Linked DNA regions of Homo sapiens: region 2 is linked to region 1. A link means that fine-mapping ties the variant in region 1 to the expression of a gene that starts in the linked region. Tissue or cell type: fibroblasts. Region 1 holds a variant in brackets; the other region holds the start of a gene. All regions are shown on one strand. Distances are from middle to middle.

Evidence for each region. PIP is the estimated chance that this variant, and not a neighbour inherited with it, causes the effect.
Region 2: PALS2 starts here. The variant in region 1 is fine-mapped to the expression of PALS2 in fibroblasts (GTEx, PIP above 0.99).

The regions. Positions count from the first base shown.
Region 1 is chr7:24,736,549-24,747,117 of GRCh38, reverse strand. GSDME (gasdermin E) reads left to right here. Exons shown (of 10, transcript NM_001127453.2): 3 at 2,364-2,556. Among named protein-coding and RNA genes, the nearest start is that of GSDME, 16 kb to the left of the region's middle. RefSeq lists a silencer at 5,234-5,528. The variant T/C (reference allele first, on the strand shown) is at 4,945.
Region 2 is chr7:24,568,065-24,579,248 of GRCh38, reverse strand. PALS2 (protein associated with LIN7 2, MAGUK p55 family member) reads right to left here and starts at 5,797. Exons shown (of 12, transcript NM_001303037.2): 1 at 5,656-5,797. RefSeq lists enhancers at 4,929-5,048, 5,099-5,148, 5,094-5,593, 6,459-6,558, 6,579-6,648 and 1 more and a silencer at 5,249-6,318.

The DNA.
Region 1 (10,569 bases):
GTGATGTGAAATGCCTCTTTTGTGGTGTCCTGAAAGATCACAAAGACTTGTGCTGGATTGGTGAGGCCAGTGGCGGTCACTGCAGGTGAAGAATCCCCGAGCATGCTCATCTGGGGTCAGAGCTCATCCTGGATTCTGTGTCCTGTTGGTGTTAGGGCGGTGACGAGAAGCGTCTTCTACTTTGTCTACTGGGTAGAGTCAGGATGCTTCACCTTTGTTATTTTTTCCCACTCGCAGCCTCACTGGCATATGTGTTGCCCAGGGCTGTGAAGGGTGTAGGGTGGTGACTGGTGTTGGCAGTCCAAGTGATGGCCTGTTGGTCCCCTCATTTCTTCCCTTCCACCAACAGCAGTTGACAGCTTGATGCAGAAGTGTGCACAAATGACATCTTCTTCGGAGGTGTGTCTAGAGTGGCTTTTCAGAACACACAGACAAATCTTGACTGTTCCTTCCTGCTGTGGATCAAGTCTTGGGGACAGGGTTTCCAGGAGTGGTAATAAGCCTAAGACCAGACCTGTGTCCTGAAGATAAAATTTCTGTCTTTGCTGTACTTTGTAGAACCTAGGACTGTCCTGTTTATTAGAAAATGATATTTCTGTGGCCTAAACACAGTGGAGAGATTGAGCCTTTGCTATGTGTGAGACTCTACCTTACATGCTTTCCATATATAAACCCGCAGCAGAACCCGTCAGGTAGCTATCATTAATTATCTCCAAATTGCTCATGAAAGTCTGAGGTTCAGGGAAATGAATGTTACCCAAATTCTCCCGGTTAGTAATATTAGAGTAGGGATAGAATCCTAACCTCTTTATCTCTGCTCTGCCCTTCTTCCCAAGGCATTGCCCAAAATGTTTGTTTTCCATGAGATATTAACAAAAAAAGTCCATGAATAGGATAAATTTTTACACCATTCTTATTTTTGGGCTGGTGGTACAGGAGATGATTCTCTGTTTTATAAATTTCAAAGGTGATTGAATGGTGATTACTTCTGATTAACCCTGGTTGAGGAGTGGGTTTTCTTGATTGCAGTGGAAGAAGTGTAGGTGAAGTATGGGTGTTGGGGCAGTGAGTGGATGGAAAGAAGCCTTTCAGACTGCCGGTGGGTTTGAATCCCCTGTGAAGGGCAGCCGGGAGCCCAGGAGAGCCTTGGGTCAGGACAATGGAAAAGGCCAAGTGTGAGGTTCCTAGTGGACTCTTAATGTCTCCTTACCAAATGGTGATGATAGAGACTATTTTTAAAATCATTATTTTTATTTGTTATTATTTTTATATTTTCTTAGAGATAAGGTGTTGCTCTGTCACCCAGGCTGGCGTGCAGTGGCATGATCATTGCTCACTTGTAACCTTATACTCCTGGGTTCAGGTGATCCTCTCACCTCAGCCTCTAGGGTAGCTGGTGTTGCCCAGGTTGGTCTTGAACTTCTGACCTCAAGGGATCCTCCTGCCTCAGCCTCCTAAATTGCTGGGATTACAAATGTGAGCCACCACACAGAGACTATTTTTAGGGTGGTTTTTGTTTGGATTACAAAAGAGAATAGTAGAAACCTGGAGATGTGAGAAGGCTGACAGTTCAGATATGAGATCAGACATTTATCATTTTAAAAAGGGCATGTCCACTGACCTTATCAGGAAGTCAGAGATAAGGAATTATATGATGAGGAATTGAATGACTGGGTAGAGGTCAGAGAGAGAATCATAAATATGGGAAGGGAATAATTTGACTGGAGATGGTAATAAGGGCCAGGGGATTGTTTTCCAAGACTGGTGGGTGGGTAGACAAGATGCCCCCAGACAGGCCTAGGTGGCCAAGGAAGGCTGTCCTCTCGCGGTGCATCCAGAATAGGGGCTGCTGTTCTCTCTCTGTTTAGTTGTCTTCTTTGTCTAGTCCCTTTCAGTCTTCACCCTGGAAAAGTACACATTTAAAATGGTCTATTGATCCACCTGGATAGTGGTTAAACAGGCGCTAACTTTATTCATTAGTCCTTTCTGTGCACCTTTCTATACGTATTGGGATTGAAAACCAATGAAAGAGAAAAGCTTCTAGTGGAGCCCTGGTCACTGGTCCACTGTGTGCCCGTGGTCCACACACACACACACACACACACACACACACACACACACACACACACACACGTGCTGCACTGGTCCACTGTGTGCCCGCGGTCCACACACACACACACACACACACACACACGTGCTGCCCTGTTTTCTTGCCCACACACACAGCATGGCTGCCGGCTTTCCATCTGAGTGCCAGCCTTCTGCTTTCCGGGGCTCTGCACAGGCTTGGAAAGCTAAATGACCCAAGACATCTTGGTGGCCTTATCATCATCGGCTTCCTCTGCTCGTCTCCTCCATTCCAGTGGTCGTGGAGTCGGACTTTGTGAAATACGAGGGCAAGTTTGCAAACCACGTGAGTGGAACCCTGGAGACTGCACTGGGGAAGGTCAAGCTGAACCTGGGGGGCAGCAGCCGCGTAGAGAGCCAGTCTTCATTTGGAACCCTGAGGAAGCAGGAGGTGGATTTGCAGCAGCTCATCAGAGACTCTGCCGAGAGGTAAGGAGACTTGTTTGGCATTTTGGATTTTGACACATCTCACATTTAAAGGTCATTCAGTTGGACCTTTGTTAAAAGGGCGACAGATTTGATCTCTGCCGATCAATAAACATGTATTGAATGCGCTTGTGTTGAAATTTCATGAGGAGCACATTCTTTAGTCTGGAATTGCTTGACTGTTCTTAGCCTGAGTGGGGGGAGACTTGGGAAGCACTTTCAAAGGATGTTACTTCAGGCAAATATGTACTTCCTTCAATCACATGATTTATAAAATGCGAACGGTAAAAATGCTCTGTCCTGCATTTTTGAATATTAACTTTAGAAGCCAGGAAGTCATGACCCCCCTCTGGCTCTATAATTTTCTGATGAAAAAAAGAAGAAAGCAAGTGAGAGGCGCGTAAAAAAGTTCAAAAATAAGAGCTCTTTTCAGTCTTTGAAGTCTTGAAGAAAACCCCACATTTATTCATTGTTTGGCTTTCGGTAAATACATCTTACCACACTATAGCTCATCATTATTCTTACCTCATATTTATTCAACATTCAAAAAATAATTGTATTGAGTGCGTCCTATGTGCCATGTACTGTTCTACATTCTGGGGAGGCTGCAGAGAGCAAAATGCCCAAATGTCTGCCTTGCATTCTAGTGAGGAGAGATACCAAACGTACAACTAAAGTAAAATGTGCAGTAGGTTGATGGGAATCGGCAGCAGTGAGAGGGGCTAGGATGTGCTAGGAATGGGGGCTACGAACTTAGAAAGTGTGGCCAGAGAAGGTGTTATGGAGAAGCTGGCATTAGGGCAAAGCTCTGCAGGAGGGCAGGGAAGGCACAGGGGCATCTGGGCAGGACGCTGTGGGCAGTGGCCAGAGTGGCCTGTGCCCAGTGAGCAAGGGGAGGGCAGGAAAGGAGAGTCGGAGGGGCTGAAAGGGGTGGGGCGCCAAGTCCCACAGGACCTTGAAGGCCACTGGAAAGGCTCACACTTACTGAGAGCCAGTGGAGGGTTTTGGGCAGGGAAGGGGCGTAATCTGATGTATTTTTTAGAAGGATCATTCTGGCTGCTGAGTTAAGAGACTGGATGGGCAGCAGCAGGGAGTTCAGTTGAGAAGTTATTGCAGTAATTCAGCGGGGATGATATTTCAGTTTGTACAGTAACATGTGCATTTTCCTGTGTAATTTTGTTGCCCTTTAGTCTTTTAAAGCAAAAATTCAAATCCAAATAAATTAAGAGAAAATTCACTTGTATTTAAGTATGGCTGGCTTATTTCATCTTTTGCAACATTTTAAAGATTATATGGAATATTAAATAAGTGCTCATTCCACAAAATTATGTTTAAAAATTAATAAAAAATACGATAAAACTCACATAGCATTAGGTGGGTGGATTTTGTACAGACATTGAGGGTGCCTGGGCAGCTGCCGTCTTCAAGTCCCAAGCCCCTCTTCAGTAACTGCCCATGCTTACTGGAACTGAAGGACCATGGCTGTGCGTTTACTGCCTACGGGCACTTTCTAGGACTCCAAGACCACACAAAGCTGTGACTCCACCAGGGGTTCCCTTTTGGTCAGATGATTTGAAGTTCTCTCTGGTAGCACCAGGTAGAAGGGACAGCTGCCTCTGTCTCTGGCAGTCATGATCTTTATTTTCCTTTCTCTACAGCTTATCTTTGCTAGAGTCCCATTTTCCTTCTCAACTGCAATTGTTGGGACACACTAGAAATGTATTTGATATTTATCTGAAATGAAAATTTAACTGGGTGTCTTACATTTTCATTTGCTAAATCTGGTGGCACTGGGGAAGGGGAAAAGGGAGGCGGGGGGTGTCCAGAGCGTCTTCTCTGCTCCCTCAGTCTCACCCAACCCTCTCTAGCTTAGATGCGCTTTGCAGTCTCGTTATTTCTATTTCAAGAAGCACAGTTTGGCAATGTCCTATAATCACATTTCTCGATATAGGTTTTTAAACACCATGATTCAGGTGTAAAAGCTCTTGCTAAAAGGAAGCATATGAGGAGGCTCACTGAGAAGAGATGGGAGAAAACATTCCGGAGAGAAAGAAGCCAGAGCCAACAGTTCTGAGTGGAGGAAGAGGGAGTGGGGGAGGGAAAGGAAAGGAGCATCCGCAGAGCACCTACTGTGTGCCAGGCACTTTATATGTAGCCTCTCCTTAACTCTGCACAGCCATCTCCTTTTACACTTAATGGCACCAAGGCTCAGGAAGGAGAAATAACTTATTCCCAGACACAGAGCTCAATTTGGATGCTGGTGCTGGGATTCAACTCAGGATTTTCTGGCTCCAAAGCTCCTGTTCTTTCCTCTAAATCATGTAAAAGTCTTAAAATGATAGCACAGAATGTTAAGGCCGAGGCATGAACCCGCGTCCCTAGGGAGGATAC[T/C]TGGTGGGTGAATCATGGAATAGAAACTATCCTGAGCAGGCACATGTGCATAGCGAGGCCTGCTCTCCTGGAGGTGCCTGGACACAGGGATGAGATCACTTGGACTCGGGAGTCCTATTACTTGTAGTGGTGATGGGGGAAGGGATGCCCTGGGGAGTGGTGCCACCAGAAGCATGATAAAGAATAAATACAAGGACTAGAACCCAAAGAGGAGTTTTATCACAGAATCACCTCACCCTTGTTAGGCGGCTAGGAGGACAGGGTGAACTATAGGGGAGGGGAGGACAGGGGCGGGAAGGGAAGACTTCTGCTCTTGGCATGGAGCTCAGTAAAGCTAACATTCTTGTTACGTCATGCTGGAGTAATAAATTCTTATCCACGTTGTCTGCCTGTCTCTGGACTCCCCATAACATCATTGGGATTGATAAGGCGTTGTTGATACATGCGTGGCCTTGGGAGTGGCAGTTCGTGATGCTTAAGGACTGTACATTCCCGAGGGCTTATTTTCAGTCACTTTTATTTCAGGTCATTTAGATAAGTTGTCATCTGCAGACAAGTTATTTTAGGCCTCAAAAATCAGAATATTAGCTTTATTGTCTATGAAATGTGTGCACATATCAAAAACAAACTTTGTCCTTGAAAAAACAAGCCTGTGCTGGGCAGGAAGGCATTCCACAGAAATTAACCTTCCGGATACCTGGAGCTGACCCCTTTGAATGCAGTCTCTGTGCAGATCTTAGCATTCTTGATGGAAACTATTCTAAGATATGTCACATACTTTTTTTTTTTTAAATGGAGAATAACAAATTTATTGAGTCTTTTTCATAGTGACTCGGATAAGCTCTTTCATTTTTGTGTTTAATAAGCTTTCATTATTATTCTGTAATACGCTTTTCATTTGTCTGCCTTGTCTTCCGTGGTCAGCTGCCATTTGTCACTACCATAAGTATAAAAGCCACAGCCCACCCCACCTCTGCCACTAGCTTGTTGCTTCTAATTTCCTAGGGTCTGGTAAGTTTATTCCTGGTCAATAACTTAGGTCGACTTGGTAAGCCGTTTCTGCCCTTGGGTTCAGTTTCCCCAGCTGTAGGTGAGATAGTTGGACTAGATGATCTCTGAAGGCTTTCTCCTGGCTGAATGTCTGGAAGTGAGTGGACTCTGGAGCGCGCACACCTGTCAGCTCCCTCCCCTGAGTTCTGGGCCGCGGTCCCGGCTGTTTTCCAGAGACCATGCTGCGTTGTGCTTTCCTGGCTATTTGGGGATTGAGGAGGGTGTTACCATAAAGGCATATCCCACTTTTATTCTTCATCATATTGTAAAGGGAATTTTGGTAAAGCAGATTACATTTTTCTATGCACATACAGTAATGAGAAGTTTGGTTCTTTATTAGGAATTCCAAATTAAATAAATTATATGAAACCAGTATATTAAAGCAATGTCATGACCATGATAAATCTTCATAATTAAAATGTTTCAGAATTACACTGAATATATATATACATATATTTACGTAAATATATATACATACATTTATGGGATATATGACATTTTTTAATGAGGAATTTTTAATGGGAAAATACATCTCATGAGATGTTTTGATACAGGCATACAATGTATAATAATCACATCATGTAAAATGAGGTATCCATCACCTCAGGCATTTATCCCTTGTGTTACAAGCAATCCAATTATACAGTTTTAGTTATTTTAAAAATGTACAATTATTATTGGCTTTAGGTGTCCTAAAGTTATGCTATCACATACTAGATTTTATTCATTCTTTAGGTATCCTAAAGTTATGTTATAAAATACTAGATCTTATTCATTCTTTCTATTTTTATTGGACCCATTAACTATCCTCGCATCCCCCTACCACTCTCCCACTACCCTTCCCAGCCTCTGGTAACCATCCCTCTACTTTCTATCTCCATGAGGTCAATTGTTTTAATTTTTAGTTCAAGAAATAAATAAGAACATGTGAAGTTTATCTTTCTGTGCCTAGTTTATTTTGTTTAACATAATGACCTCCAGTTCCATCCCTGTTGTTGCAAATGACAGGATCTTATCCTTTTTTTTTTTTTGAGATGGAGTCTTGCTCTGTCACCCAGGCTGGAGTGCAGTGGTATAATCTTGGCTCACTGCAACCTCCGCCTCCCAGGGTCAAGCAGTTCTCCAGCCTCAGCTTCCCGAGTAGCTGGGATTACAGGCACCCATCACCAAACCTGGCTAATTTTTGTATTTTTAGTAGAGATGGGGTTTCACCATATTGGCCAGGCTGGTCTTGAACTCCTGACCTCGTGATCCGCCTGCCTTAGCCTCCCAAAGTGCTAGGATTATGGGCGTGAGCCACTGCGCCCAGCCCAGGATCTTACTCTTTTTTTAATGACTAAATAGTACTCTATCGTGTATATTTACCACATTTTCTTTATTCATCTATTGAGGATTAGGTTGTTTCCAAATTTTGACTATTGTGACTAGTGCTGCAATAAATGTAGGAGTGCAGATAGCTCCTCAGTATACTGATTTCCTTTCTTTTGGGTACATATCCAGCAGTTGGAATGCTGGATAGTATGGTAGCTCTATTTTTAGTTTTTTGAGGAATCTCCAAACTGTTCTTCATAGTGTAGTAATTTGCATTACATTCCCACCAACAGTGTACAGGCATTCCCTTTTTTTCCACATTCTTATCAGCAGTTTTTATTGCCTGTCTTTTGGATAAAAGCCATTTTAACCAGGGTGAGGTGATAACTCATTGTAGTTTTGATTTGCATTTCCCTGATGATCAATGATGTTGAGCACATTTTCATATGCCTGTCTGACATTTGTATGTCGTCTTTTGAGAAATGTCTATTTAGATCTTTTGCCCATTTTTAACAGGATTATTAGATTTTTTTCCCTACAGTTGTTTGAGCCCCTTTTATATTCTGGTTATTAATCTCTTGTCACATGGGTAGTGTAAAAATATTTTATCCCATTCTGTGAGTTGTCTCTTCATTTTGTTGTTTCATTGCTGTGCAGAAGTCTTTAACTTGATATGATTCCATTTGTCCATTTTTGCTTTAGTGGTTCGTGTCTGTGGGATGTTACTCAAGAAACCTTTGCCCAGTTCAATGTCCTAGAGAGTTTCCCTCGTGTTTTCTTATAGTAGTTTCATAGTTTGAGGTCTTAGATTTAAGTGTTTAATCCATTTTGATTTGGTTTTTGTATATGGTGAGAGATAGGGTCTAGTTTCATTCTTCTGCATAGGGATATACAGTTTTCTCAGCACCATTTATTGAAGAGGCTATCCTTTCCCCAATGTATGCTCTTGGCACCTTTATTGAAAATGAGTTCAACATAAATGTATGGATTTGTTTCCGGATTCTCCATCCCATTCCATTGGTCTGTATTTTTGTTTATATGCCATTACCATACTGTTTTAATGACTATAGCTCTGCAGTATAATTTGAAAGTCAGGTAATGTGATTCATCCAGCCTTGTTCCTTTTGCTCAAGGTAGCTTTGGCTATTCTGCATCTTTTGTGGTTCCACATAAATTTTAGGGTAGTTTTTTTTCTATTGCTGTGAAGAACATCATTGGTATTTTGTAGGGATTGCATTGAATCTCTACAAAGTATAGATTACTTTGAGTAGTATGGACATTTTAACAATATTTATTCTTCTGATCTGTGAATATGGAACATCTTTCCATGTTTTTTGTGTCCTCTTCAATTTCTTTCATCAGTGTTTTATAGTTTTCATTGTAGAAATTTTTCACTTCTTTGGTTAGTTTGTAGATATTTAATTTTATTTGTAGCTATTGTAAATGGGATTATTTCCTTGATTTCTTTTTCAGATTGTTCTCTGTTGCCCTATAGACATGCTACTGATTTTTGTATGTTGATTTTATATCCTACAACTTTAGTGAATTTGTTTATTGGCTTTAATAGTTTTTTGGTGGAGTCTTTAAGTTTTTCCAAATATAAGATCATGTTTTCTGCAAACAAGGATCATTTGACTTCTTCCTTTCCAATTTGAATGCCTTTATTCTTTCTCTTGTCTGATTGCCCTAGCTAGGACTTCGAGTACTATGGTGAATAACAGTGGTGAAAGTGGGCATCCTTGTTGTGTTCCAGATCCTAGAGGAAAGGCTTTCAGTTTTTCTCCATTTCAGTATGATACTAGCTGGTTGGTCTATCATATATGGCTTTTATTGTGGAACTATGTTCCTTCTATGTGCAGTTTTTTATCTTGAAGGGATGTTGAATTTTATCAGATGCTTTTTCAGCATCAGTTGAAATAATCAAATGGTTTTTGTTCTTCATTTTGTTGATATAATGTGTCACACTGATTGATTTGCATATGTTGAACCATCCTTCCATCCCTGGGATACATCTCACTTGGTCATGATAAATTATCTTTTTAATGTATTGTGGAATTCATTTTGTTAGTATTTTGTTGAGGATTTTTGCATCACTGCTTGTAGTTTTCTTTTTTTTTTTGATGTGTCTTTGTCTGGTTTTGGTATCAGGGTAATACTGGCCTTGTAAAATGAGTTTGAAAGTATTCCCTCCTTCTCTGTTTTTTGGAATAGTTTGAGTAGGATTGGTATTCATTCTTTTTTAAATGTTTGGTAACATTCAACAGTGAAGCCATCAGGTTTTTGTTGGCTTTTCTTTTCTGGGAGACTTTATTTTGGCTTTGATCCCATTACTTGTTTTTTTTGTTATTTTGGCTTTGATCCCATTTCTTCACGGTTCAATCTTGGTAGGTTTTGTGTCTAGGAATTTATTCATTTCTTCTAGGTTTTCCAATTTATTGGTGTATAGTTACTCATAGTAGCCTCTAATGATCCTTTGAATTTCTGTAGTATTAATGTAATGTCTCTTTTCTCATTTCTGATTTTATTTATTTGGGTCTTCTCTTTTTTTCTTAGTCTGGCTAAAGGTTTGTCAACTTCATTTATCTTTTTAAAAAAACAAACTTTTGTTTCATTAATCTTTTGTATTGTTTTCCTCATTTTAATTTATATCTGTTCTAATCTTTATTATTTCTTTTCTTCCACTAGCTTTGGATTTGGTTTGATCTTGATTTTCTAGTTCTTTAAGATGCATTGTTAGATTGTTTATTTGAAATTTTTCTACTTTTTTGATTTATGTACAGCTATAAACTTCCTCTTAGTACTGCTTTTGATGTACCCCATAGGTTTTGCTGTTGTGTTTCTGTTATCATTTGTTTCAATAAAATTTCAATTTTTCTTAGTGTCGTCATTGACTCACTGGTCATTCAGGAGCATGTTGTTTAATTTCCATGTATTTGCATAGTTTCACAAATTCCCCTTGTTATTGCTATATAGTTTTTTTATTCCACTGTGGTCAGAGAAGGTACTTTATATTATTTCAATTTTTTGGATGTTTTGAAACTTGTTTTGTGGCCTAACATATGGTCTATCCTTGCGAATGATCCATGTGCTGAGGAAAAGAATGTGTATTCTTCAGTTGTTGGATGAAATGTTCTGTATATATCTATTGGGTCTGTTTGGTCTGTAGTGCAGATTAAGTCTGATGTTGATTTTCTGTCTGGATGATCTGTCAAATGCTGAAAGCTAGGTGTTGATGTCTCCAGGTATTACTGCACTGGGGGCCTA
Region 2 (11,184 bases), 170 kb after region 1:
ATCTGTCAGTAGGTGAAACAGTATCTCATAGTTTTTATTTATAATATTTGTATTATGTGTGAGGTTGAATACCTTTACAGATGCTTACAAAACACTTGCATTTCCTTTTCTGAGAATTACTCTGTTCATGATCTTTGCCCACTTGATGGTTGGTCTTTTCCTAATTGGTTAGTAGGTACTTTATATAAAGGAAGTTAGACTCTTATTTATCATACAAATTGCAAATATTTCTACCAGTTCCTCCATTATCATGCTATTTTTATTTTACTTCCTTTTTGTATATATTTTATCTTCCTCAATCAAACTGCAAATCATGCCCATGAAAGATATCACATTTCTTTTCTATATCTCCAGGAAGAGTGCTTTTCAGATACTTCAGATTTCAAGATCAAATTTAAAAAGAGGAGAGACGAGTGTTTTGCAGCAGATGAATAAGTATGAACATTAATTATCACAGGGGCACCTACTTGGATTGTCTGTTTAATCCCATTACATGTGGTTACAGCAAGTACAACCAAGTTCTAATAATGAGATATAGTTTATTGAACAGGGAAGAACTAGATGAACCTTTCTCCAGTTTCCCAGGCTGGTATCATGAAAACTCAGAAGCTACTGGTGGCCATATTTTCCACTAAGAGGACTAGAAGTGGTCCTCTGCAGCAAGAGAAGGAATGAAGCAAACGCACAGAGAAGAAGAGAGAAACGATATGATGTGCCCTGCAGGCACTGGAGTCCCAGTCCTTGCATTCCACTGGACATTGGCTGCATTTGAACGATAAATTCCCTTTATAACAACTAGAATGGATTTCTATTACTTATGGCCAAAAGAGGCCTGTTTACCATACTACTATCATTTTATAAAGGAGCATTTGAACACCGAAACCTCAGAAAGAACATGACCTCAGATTTTTTAAAAGGATGATTTATTTAATGACAGCTATGTGCCAGGAACAGGTCTAAGTCCTTGAAATATAGTGTTAATCAAAAGAGACAAGATCAGCAGGGTGTGGTGGTTCATGCTTATGATCCCAGTGCTTTGAGGCACTGAGGCGAGAGAATCCCTTGAGATCAGGAGTTTGAGAGCAGCCTGGGCAACACACACAGCAAGACTCCATTTCTACAGAATTTTTTTTTTTTAATTAGCTCGGCATGGTAGTTGTTGCCTATAGTCCTAGCTACCAGGAGGCTGAGGTGGGAGGATCACTTGAGCCTAGGAGTTCCAGGCTGCAGTGAGCCGTGATCACACACACCACTGCACTCCAGCCTGGGGTGACCGAGTGAGATTCTATCTCAAAAACAAAAACAAAAAGAGACAAGATCATTGATATCACGGGGCTTATATTCTAGTGAGTATGGAGATTATAAAATAATATAAAAACATAATTTCAGATACTGATAAATGGTTTGAAGAAATTTTTAAGTAAAAAAGGTAATGGGATTGAGGGGGATGAGGCTAGTGTCATTCTGGAAGGATGGTTAGGTAGCAATGCTTGTCTGAAAAGATGATATTTGAACTACAACATGAAATGATGAAAAGTAGTCACTCATGTAATGATTTAGGAAGAGTTCCCAACAGAGTGAACATAGTGCAAAAGCCCTAAGTTAGGAGCAAGCCATGGCATTGATGAGGAACAAAATGAAGGGCAATGTAGATGAAATATAGCAAAAAGTGGAGGAAGAGGGTAAAGAAATGATAGATTTAAGAGGAAAAGATGTAAATTGGTGAAGGAGGGATTAAATCATGTACAAAACTAGCAAGCAGTAGAAAGGATCTGAAAATAACTTGAGCTTTATGAAATATTCATTATATTGTCTTTAATTCTCATTTTGCCTTGTATCAGTGATAACTCTGACAGATAGGCTTTTAGAAACTTCCATTCCCAAGTACTTAACACAATCCTAAAGTTAGCCAGAGATGAATATATTCCTAAGCAGAAAGTATCTCTTCTAGTACACTATATTAAAAAAAAAAAAAAAGGAAAAAAGGAAAAAAGAATTTTCGGATGAAAGCAAAGTCATCTTAAAGGAAAGAAGGAAAATAACCTAGGATGAAGGAAAAATAGAAACTAATTTTGTTCTGTTCATTACTCTGTGAATATACTTACTATGATAAAGATTATAGAAAGGTCTTTGAATTAGTCTATCATAATTAAGGAAGGTCATAAAACTTAAGTTCTTTCTAAACTACTATAAACGTAGCAGCCTCTGTTTACTGAGTTCATTATTATTGAATTGGACATTAACAAGGTTAAATACTGTCAGAAAAGAAAAAGTAGAAACCAGGCTTTTGACTTTATTACACCTGGTAATAATGGTCACAGCTTAATGGTTAACAAAGTTGTGGGCTTTAATCTTATCTATATGACTATGATAAAGGAAGAACTTCCCCTCTGCGGTGAAATGAACACTAAAATTAGCTACATGGGATGCTTCAATATCTTCTCCTCCAAAAGCTTTTTATAAGAGGAGACCAATTTGTTTAAAGGGTTTGGATATAGATACACTTCACAGAAGAGTGATGATCTTTCCAGATCCTTCCAGACAACTAATATCTGTGTACTCTAAGCAAGCAATTAAACCTACACTGCTTCTAAGATTAATGCAAGTAAAGTCGGATCTTTGAAAGCTATAATGTATTCAGGAATCTTATCTTTCATTATGTTAGAGGCATACTTAGACCACTTAACAGTAGACTGTTAATAACACAGTCTATAAAGAATGATACTTTGTAAGCATGCTGTGAGTTAAAGAAAGAAAAGTCATTAAACACCTTGATTGAGACTTGCTTCAGAGTGCATCCTCCTCAGCACACTACCCAGCAGTTTGACAAAGTGCCCAGGATTAGCAGCCAATGTATGTAAAGAAGGAATATGGTCAAGCCCAATTGTAAAGTCTCCCCCCAGTGGTCAGATACAAGTAACAGAAAAGGAGGAAAATCATTGCAGCTTCTGTGAGACTGAACAGGAAGACTAAACAAAACTGGTCCCTACAACAAAAAAATAAAATCTTTAATTCAATACTAGCACCATATCAGGAAAGAGATCTCTTGTGCTTATCTGCTCTTATATTTATAAATGTGAAGACTACTTTTCTAAAGAACCTACAGTTAAAACAAAACTAGCATAATTTTTCTCCGCCTAAGTTTTAAGGAATAACTGACATATTCCCAAACAGTTCAGTATTTATCAAATGGGTAAGTGTTCATTCTTCCTGAAATAAACATCAGCACATCACTTACATGGTTAACTATACTTACCTGAAGTAGAGTTCTGATTTAAAAAAAAAAAATCTAGTCACTCATCAAGTGAATCACTCTGGAAGGAAAAATTATTAACTATTATATACCTAATGTGAATTTTACAAGATACTCTTTTTCAAAAGTCACCTAGCAATAGGTAATTTATATTAGAGTGATGTCAAAAGTATAAATGCGTCCTCTTACCTCTTTTAATTTTATTTTCTGGCTGTTTTTTTACAATTAGCCTTTGACTAGCACTAATCCTGTATTATTTGTAACTCTCTCAGCAATAATATGATGCTACTCCATTTTTACAAAGCTCAGATGTCAAAAATATGAAAGACATTTAATTAAAATATCTGTTTTATTCTGCTAATCCATTATTAAGTAGTAAAGCATGTAAAGGGATAGTAAATATTCAAACAAGCAACTTCAATTTTAAAACAACTTTTTAAAAAGATAACACATAGAGTCACAGTTATGTCTTCTTGGTTATCTCAAGCTAAAAAGAGGGGGAGTGGGGAGAGAAAGAGAGAAGCAGGCTATGTAGTGCTCTGGAACAATTTCAGCCTAAAATGAGACTCAGAAGCAAACTGCTCCCTCAAATGTTTAAAAATATGATTCATTTTTAAAAATCCAACAGTTGGCCTAAAGAAAAAAAAAGATTCTGTCTTATATAGAGCTACTAGACTTGCTTAAACACCTTAATTTTTCCAGTGTTGATTTAACCTAGAATGCAAAATAATTCATTTTGACATTCCAGATGTCAAGAATTCGGTGGCATCAGTAAGGACACATACACACCTCTTTCATAAAGATGGTGTGCAGTCTCCATAGGACAAAATTGAGCAATTAAAAGTGTTACCATTTGTGTATTATGTAACCGTAGTCCAGAATGAAGGAAACATGGACCTTAAAGAGTAACACATCGTGCAAACACGCATTTAAACACCTATTTAAATATATGATAGATTTAAGGTACAAATGACCTCAAAATGACACAACCCACAAAAGTTCTTTGTTTACTGTTAACAAGGCCTCAGAAGACATAACTATAATCAGGCCTACTACCCACTACCCTATCATTGCACAGTAGATGCCTACAATAAGCAATATTACTTGAGGTCCGTTGCTATACCTATATACGGAAACTATATACCGCATTACTAAAAATGTTACTTCGCCTGGTATATTCGACCAACATAAGTTTACAAATGATTTGCAAAATTTCACGGGAAGAAATGGCTGCTAAATCATACTCCAATTGAAACGCATTTTAACGCACCCCAAACGTTCTCAGCTACACTACAAGACCACTTGTAATATACTTGAAGCACAAAGTAAAATTCCAACACTCTCCAAAGGCGTAGGAAAGAATAAAACGTGGCTAGCCTGACCTTACCCGGCTGTTTATAAGTAATGCGGAGAATTTTCTGAGCTTCCCCGGCAGTCTTCAATTCTCTCCCTCGCTTCACCCCCACCCCCTACACAGATGCACACCCAACTGATGGAAGTTTAACAAATGTAATCTCGAGCTGCAATCCCAGAAACTGGTAGGATTGAGAATAAACTCCCAGTAAAGTGTTAAAAAGTCCTTCTGCAAAAAAACATCTACCAACCAATCCACATCCTGTCACCACACGGTCGGATACCTCAATCGACTCCCCTGCTGACCCTCCACCCAGCCAAAATAAAAAAGCCCCAGCACCTATTTGGTTTCAGACAAACGTACCGAGAATCCGCGAGCACGATCTCAGCAGCGAACGCCCCCGCGGCAGCCTGTGCTCGGCCCACAGCCACTTTGGCCAAACAACTGGAGTCTCGTACCTCGGAAGTAGCGGCGGTAGTTGGAGAAAGCCTCCTCCCCTACCAACTCCGAGCTCGGGAGAGAACCGGGAGCCGGCGGAATCACCCCCTCTCGGGACAGACCCCGGAGGTGTCAGTCACAGCAACGCCGCCCCCAGGCCGGCTCTCCATTCAGGCTCCACCGCGACTCCCGCCGCAGAGGTGTAGGCACCCAAGCCCCGCGCCCGAAGGGGCCCCGCGCGTCTGCGGCCCTAGCCCCAGTCGGGGCCGCGCCGGGGAGCGCGTGGGGAGCGGCGGCAAGCAGCATGGGCCAGACACGTTGCCGAGCTCCGGCCCGCCCAGCCGCCCGCAGCCAGAGAGGCAGGAGCCCGGCCGAGCGCCCCTTCCGCGCGGGCCGGGCTGGGGGCGGCCAGCAGCCTCCCCGACCGCGGCGCCGCCGCCGCCGCCTGCCGGTCCCTCTTCCCCGCGCCCGCCGAAGCCCAGGTGCCGAGGGGGGCGGGGCGGGCCAGGGTCCCCGCGTGGCGCGCCGCGCCGAGCAACAGGGCGCCCCCGGCCGGCCCGGCGCGCGGCGCGACCGTTACCCGAGCGGCGTGGGGGTCCAGTTAACTCACCGGCTCGCACCTCAGCCGCCTCCGCGCCGCCGCTGCCGCCGCTCCCGGTCGCTCCCCGCCGCCGCTGCTCTCCCTCAGCCACAGGCGCCGCCGAGCAGCCCCATCTGCAAACTCGTGGCTCGTAGTTGAGAACTGGAAATGCGTCTCTCACTGCCCTCCGCCTCCCTCTCTCTCCTCCCCCTCCCTCGCTCCCCACTCTGCCCCAGCTCCGGTCGCCCCCGCCGCTGCCTCCGCGCGCGCAGCCAGCCGCGCCTCAGCCGCCCTCCTCCTCCTCCTCCTCCTCCTCCTCCTCCTCCAGCCGCCGCCGCCGCCGCCGCTTGGGCGCGCTCCCAGCCGGCCTCGCGCGTGCGCCGGACGTCGGGGAGCGCGCGCTCGGGCGCGAGGAGGTGCCACCGCCTCCGGAAAGCCGGGCCCCGCCCCTCCCGCCGCGGCTGGGCGCCCAGGTGGAGCCCCCTCCCAGCTTCTGAGCGCCCAGACTGACTGCGCTCTGCGCCCGGCCGGCTCGCTTCAGGGGTCCCGGACCTGCGCCCGCGAGAGAGGGCTGGTCGGACCCAGTCCCCGCCGGGTCTCCTGGGCCGAAGTCGCAGCTGTCTGTCAGCATTTACGGGTGGGCAAGATACTCCTCGGGGCATAAAACAGGCTCCGCCCTGACCTTTCTGAGAGTTTTACATTCAAGAACCCAGTCGTGGGGCACAAAAGAGAAATGGAACGAGAAGAAAAGCCTCTGGAAAAATCTCCCCCTCCCCCTTCACAGACTCCACTGGATCTGATGTGTATTTGGCAGGTTCTACGGCGCTGACTGTGTCCTTCATTAATTTTTTCCCAAAGGCCCGACCGGGCAGTGTGATTCACACCCGAGGAAATGCATGGACACTGGCTCTTTTCATAGCACCGAGGCTCCCGTGGAACTCCCTGGGTCGGCTTTGCCAGACACTCCCTGGACACAGTTGTTCAGCTCCTCCCCAGCACCTGGGCTTCCCAGACCTCAAAAGGGTGGGGTTGGGGAGGGCATGCCATCCTTTCAGCCTGGACTCTGCGTAGAGCTTGGTGAACTGTGATGAGTGTCCGGATGTGTAGATGACACATTTTGACAGAAGTGCAGATTTAATTTTTCAGTTGAAAGGAACTGAGCAATGCACTGCAGCAGAGACTTCTGGCTAGAAAAACATAGCAAGGCAGCCAGAGAACTTCCGATCCCCTTAAAAGAGCTCTGTGAACCCTCAGACCTGTGACAGGCGGCTTTTGGAAAAACTATTGTGTTCTTCCTAAAATTGAAGAATGTAATTTACATTTTACAAAATGCTTACTGCAATCTTTTCAAACCATGAACGTAGAAAGTGCAAGTCAAACTTTACGTGTGAGGAGTGTTATGAGGTGGCCTCCTCTGTGCAGCCTTTCCTGGCTTCTCTTGGGCACCTTGCACAAACCAGACCATTAATAAGTGTTTGCAGAATAAATGCGTGCATCATGGCCCTTTGGATTCAGAGATGAAGTTATAAGTTGTATTGTCTCCTCTCTTTGTGAATGTGGCAGGCATGGAAGGGAGAGAGAAAATACTATTGATGAGATGTATTAAGAAGGTCCAGTGTCCAAAACAGTGATTTTTGTGTTTATCCTCAACCAAGCATCAAAGATTAATTTACTTTTCCATTAGGATCATTAATTTTGCAAACCAACATGCAGGGGGGCCTTGTACAGTGTTAATTTAGAACCTTCTTTCCTGGAACCACAAACCCAGGCAAAGGTAATTGGAAGCATTTAAGGAGACTCAAACGTGCCCAGGGCACAGAGTAGCTTTGGGCCCCCTGTAGTCAGGATGGCTGGATGAAATGAAGTGGAGTGGGCTCGGAGCCCAAGGCAGAGACAAAGCGGAAGGATGGGGTTTGTCTTCTCGGGGTGTCAGCAAGACCTTTCAGGTCCTTCTTGCTGCCCCAGGCCCACTTGCTTCTCACAGGACACCCATGGGTCCTCCCTGCTGTACCCTACCCAGGCTTGTGAACTCTTTTCCCTTCTGACTCTTAACCTTAACACATCCCCTTGGACCCAGCCACTTAGTTACTTGCCCTGAGCTTCTCTGGGGTTGGGGTGGGAGGTAGGGTATGAATGTCATTTCCAGATATGTTAGTGATCCTTAATAGTGCACTTTTATTTCCTCAAGGGTCTTCTGGAAACAATGTCCTAACCTACTCTACCCCTGCTCCCTGCAAGTAGAATGATGTTAACTGAGGAAGTTTTAGGGAGGGAGGGTTTGGGGTAGGCTCTGCCCCTCAAATTACATGCAGACCTACCTGACTTAAAGCTGGCACCACTCCTGGCCAACTGCTTTATCTCTGCATCTACCAGAGACCCAGCATTTGGGAGCAGGAATACAGGAACAATTATCTTTCATTTGCAGTTCCAAGTCTGTGCTCTAAGTAATGACAGCAGCTATCAGATGGAGGCTTATCACTGCCGTAAGACTCAGCTTCATTCTTAGAGTCAGAAAAATGATTTTGCTCCAATAACTGTCTTTGATTGCTCCCCTTCAGAAAGCTCTTGCCGGTGAAGTTCCTCTCTCAGTGTCAGATGAGTATTGTATCAAATACTCATATACAGTTATAAAAGGAAACACTATTTCCTTTTATAAATGATATTCCCATTTTATAACATTCTGCCCTTCCTCTAAACTTTAAAGGTGGGACATGCCAGGATAAATTTAAAGTGTTCTCAGTTAAACATTGGAACTCCCATCATTGGTTCCCAACTCAGCTTTCTGAGAGGTCATCATACTGAGACACCACCATCCATTTCCCATACCGGTTACAAATTCTTCATTCCAAGAAAGGGGAATGATATGATTGAGAATGATGGTGGATCTTTCTCTTCAGTGTCCTTAATAGTCTGACTTTTCATTTCCTTCAAGGTTACTCTAAAGGGATCATAATTTTACCACAGCCCAGTATCTCCCAACGGTAATTCAATTTAAAATTTGAATTTTGATTCTTAATTCAGGAGCATCCATCACTCAATTTTGTTTCCTCCTTCAAATGTAAACAACATACACTTTTAATGTGATTACATTTTCTTTTCTCTTCTGACCTGCTTTGCTCCTACAGAAATTGAGAATTTTGCTAATAGCCCCGAATTTTAGCAAAAGCAAATCCTGTGTACTTGTTTTTCAACTAATCCATCATAGTAAAAGCAGTGACACTCCTGGAGGATAGCTTTATTTAAAAATGCAACTGGCATGCATCACAAAGTCCAACCAAGTTTTCCTTCAGAATACTTTATTTAGCTTCACTCCTTTTATCTCTGCTCACAAAGCTAGGTCAGATTCCAATTTCCAGCCTCCTTGCTAACCTTTCTAATTCTAGCCTCTCTCTTGCTTCCTTGCAATTTATCCTATACTCAGAGCAGTGCTTCTTAATTTTTGGCTCTTTATTGAAATCACCCAGAGAACTTTAAGAAACAAAACAAAGCACTGATGCTTTGATGCCATCCCAGACTTAATTGCTCTGGAGCACAGCCTGGGTGCCAGGATTTTTTCAGAGCTCTCCAGATAACTCTAATACGCAGCCAGAGTTAAGAACTATGGAAATGAATCATCTTCCAAACAACATTTATACCAAATCTTCACAACAGTGGGGTAGCTCCAAATTACCTCGAGTAATCAAATTAAAATTCCTAATCCTGTGCTTTAAGACTCTTTGCCAATTGACTAGAATAGTCCCCTTTCAAAACAGCTTAAATTTATCTCCTTCCTAAAGCTTCTCCAGATTAGTCTCACCTGGCTGCCTGAAGATCACCGTTCCCAGCTCTGAGCATCCCGACTGGCACTGGTTTACAAACCGCTGGACCTCAGTTGATTGTGTACATTATTGTTTTAATCTTGCTTTCATAGATATTTGTCAGAGGCTTTTCTTATAATCTAAATCTTTCCAAAAGTCCCACTGGGTCAACTGTCTCAAACAGAAATGTCTTAGCAGAACTTTCTCCTCTAAACTAGCTGTCTGAAAAAACATTTCCTGATACGATGGCAGTTCTTTTTTTTTTTTTAATCATCACAATTAAAGCCAAACATTATAAGAACTTGAGTTTTGGGGTTGTTTGGTTTTTCCTTAAAAAAGAAAACTATATATCTCAGCATATCTCCTTGACTTTTCTTACCATTATTTGTTTATTTTAGGCATTGGAATTGGGCTTCCACACCCACTTCTCTGCTGAAACTACTATTTCCATCACAATTAACATTTTCATTCATGTGTTCATCCATTCAGTCACTCATTTACTAGTGAAGCATAATGAAAATAAAAAAATTAACAATATCAAGTAGTCCCTACCTAATGGCGAAGAATAATAAGCAAAATATTACATAATAAGTGCTATGCCAGGTGTCTTAATAGTATATGACAGAATTAGTGGGGAAGGTCTTTGCTTAGTGTTCATGCCATTGAACTTCTCTGCAGTGTTTGAGGAGGTTAATCTCTCGTACTCTCACTCTCTAAACCTCTCTTTTCCTTTAACTTCTCTGATACCATACCACCTGGGAGCTCTTTCGACCTCTCTGACTGTTCCATCTCTGACCCTTACTTTGCTGTGTTATCTCCTCCTACTTCCTAAAGAAAAATGTTCCACTAAGAATGAAATAAATTTTTGAGGAGAAACTTAAAAAGAGCAGATAGTACTGTTTATCTTGAGAATCCCAGGGATCCTTAGGACTCTAGCACCAATGCTTCCACATCTGTATCTATTCTCCCTTGAGGCATATTTTCAACTCGCTGTTGAAAATTTCCATCTAGATAAGCTATTCACGGGGTTGCTCCTGCTGGTTTTTCTGGCACCTTCCTTTCCTTTACCTCCTTTTACCATCTCCTGAACAAACACATACTCAAATCCCTTGCAGCCCACTTTCTCAAAATTATAGGAATGGATTCTCTTGTTTATTTGCTTTAGTCCTACAGAGTCTCCTAACTCATCTCCCTGCCTCAGGGCCTCCTTGCCCTGACTGCCAGGTGCCAGTCATTTTATCCCTGTCTCCTTACTGCCTACGGGACCCCATTTACAAGGTCATTCACAATGACAGTCAAAGCTTCCCTGTTTGGATATTCTAGTTAGTCATATCTTGTATCTTTATGTTTCTACCCCTGTTTTTGCCTTCTGCCATCTCTGCTGGCCAAAATCCAAGCATGTGTGCTCATCTCACACCCTCCTTTTCCATGAAACCCTTTCTGCCTCACCTCAAACAGAGGTACAGTAGTCCCCCAGTCCCCCCTTATTCATGGTTTCACTTTCCAAGGTTTCAGTTTTCCTCAGTACAGTATGATAAGATATTTTGAGAAAGAGAGACACTATGTTCACGTAACTTTTATGAAGGTATATTGTTATAATTGTTCTATTTTATTATTAGTTATTGTTAATCTCTTAACGTGCCTAATGTATAAATTAAAAACTTTATCATAGGTATGTATGTCTACAAACCATAGTACATATATATATATATATATATATATATATAAAATATGTACAGTGCAGTACTATCCATGGTTTCAG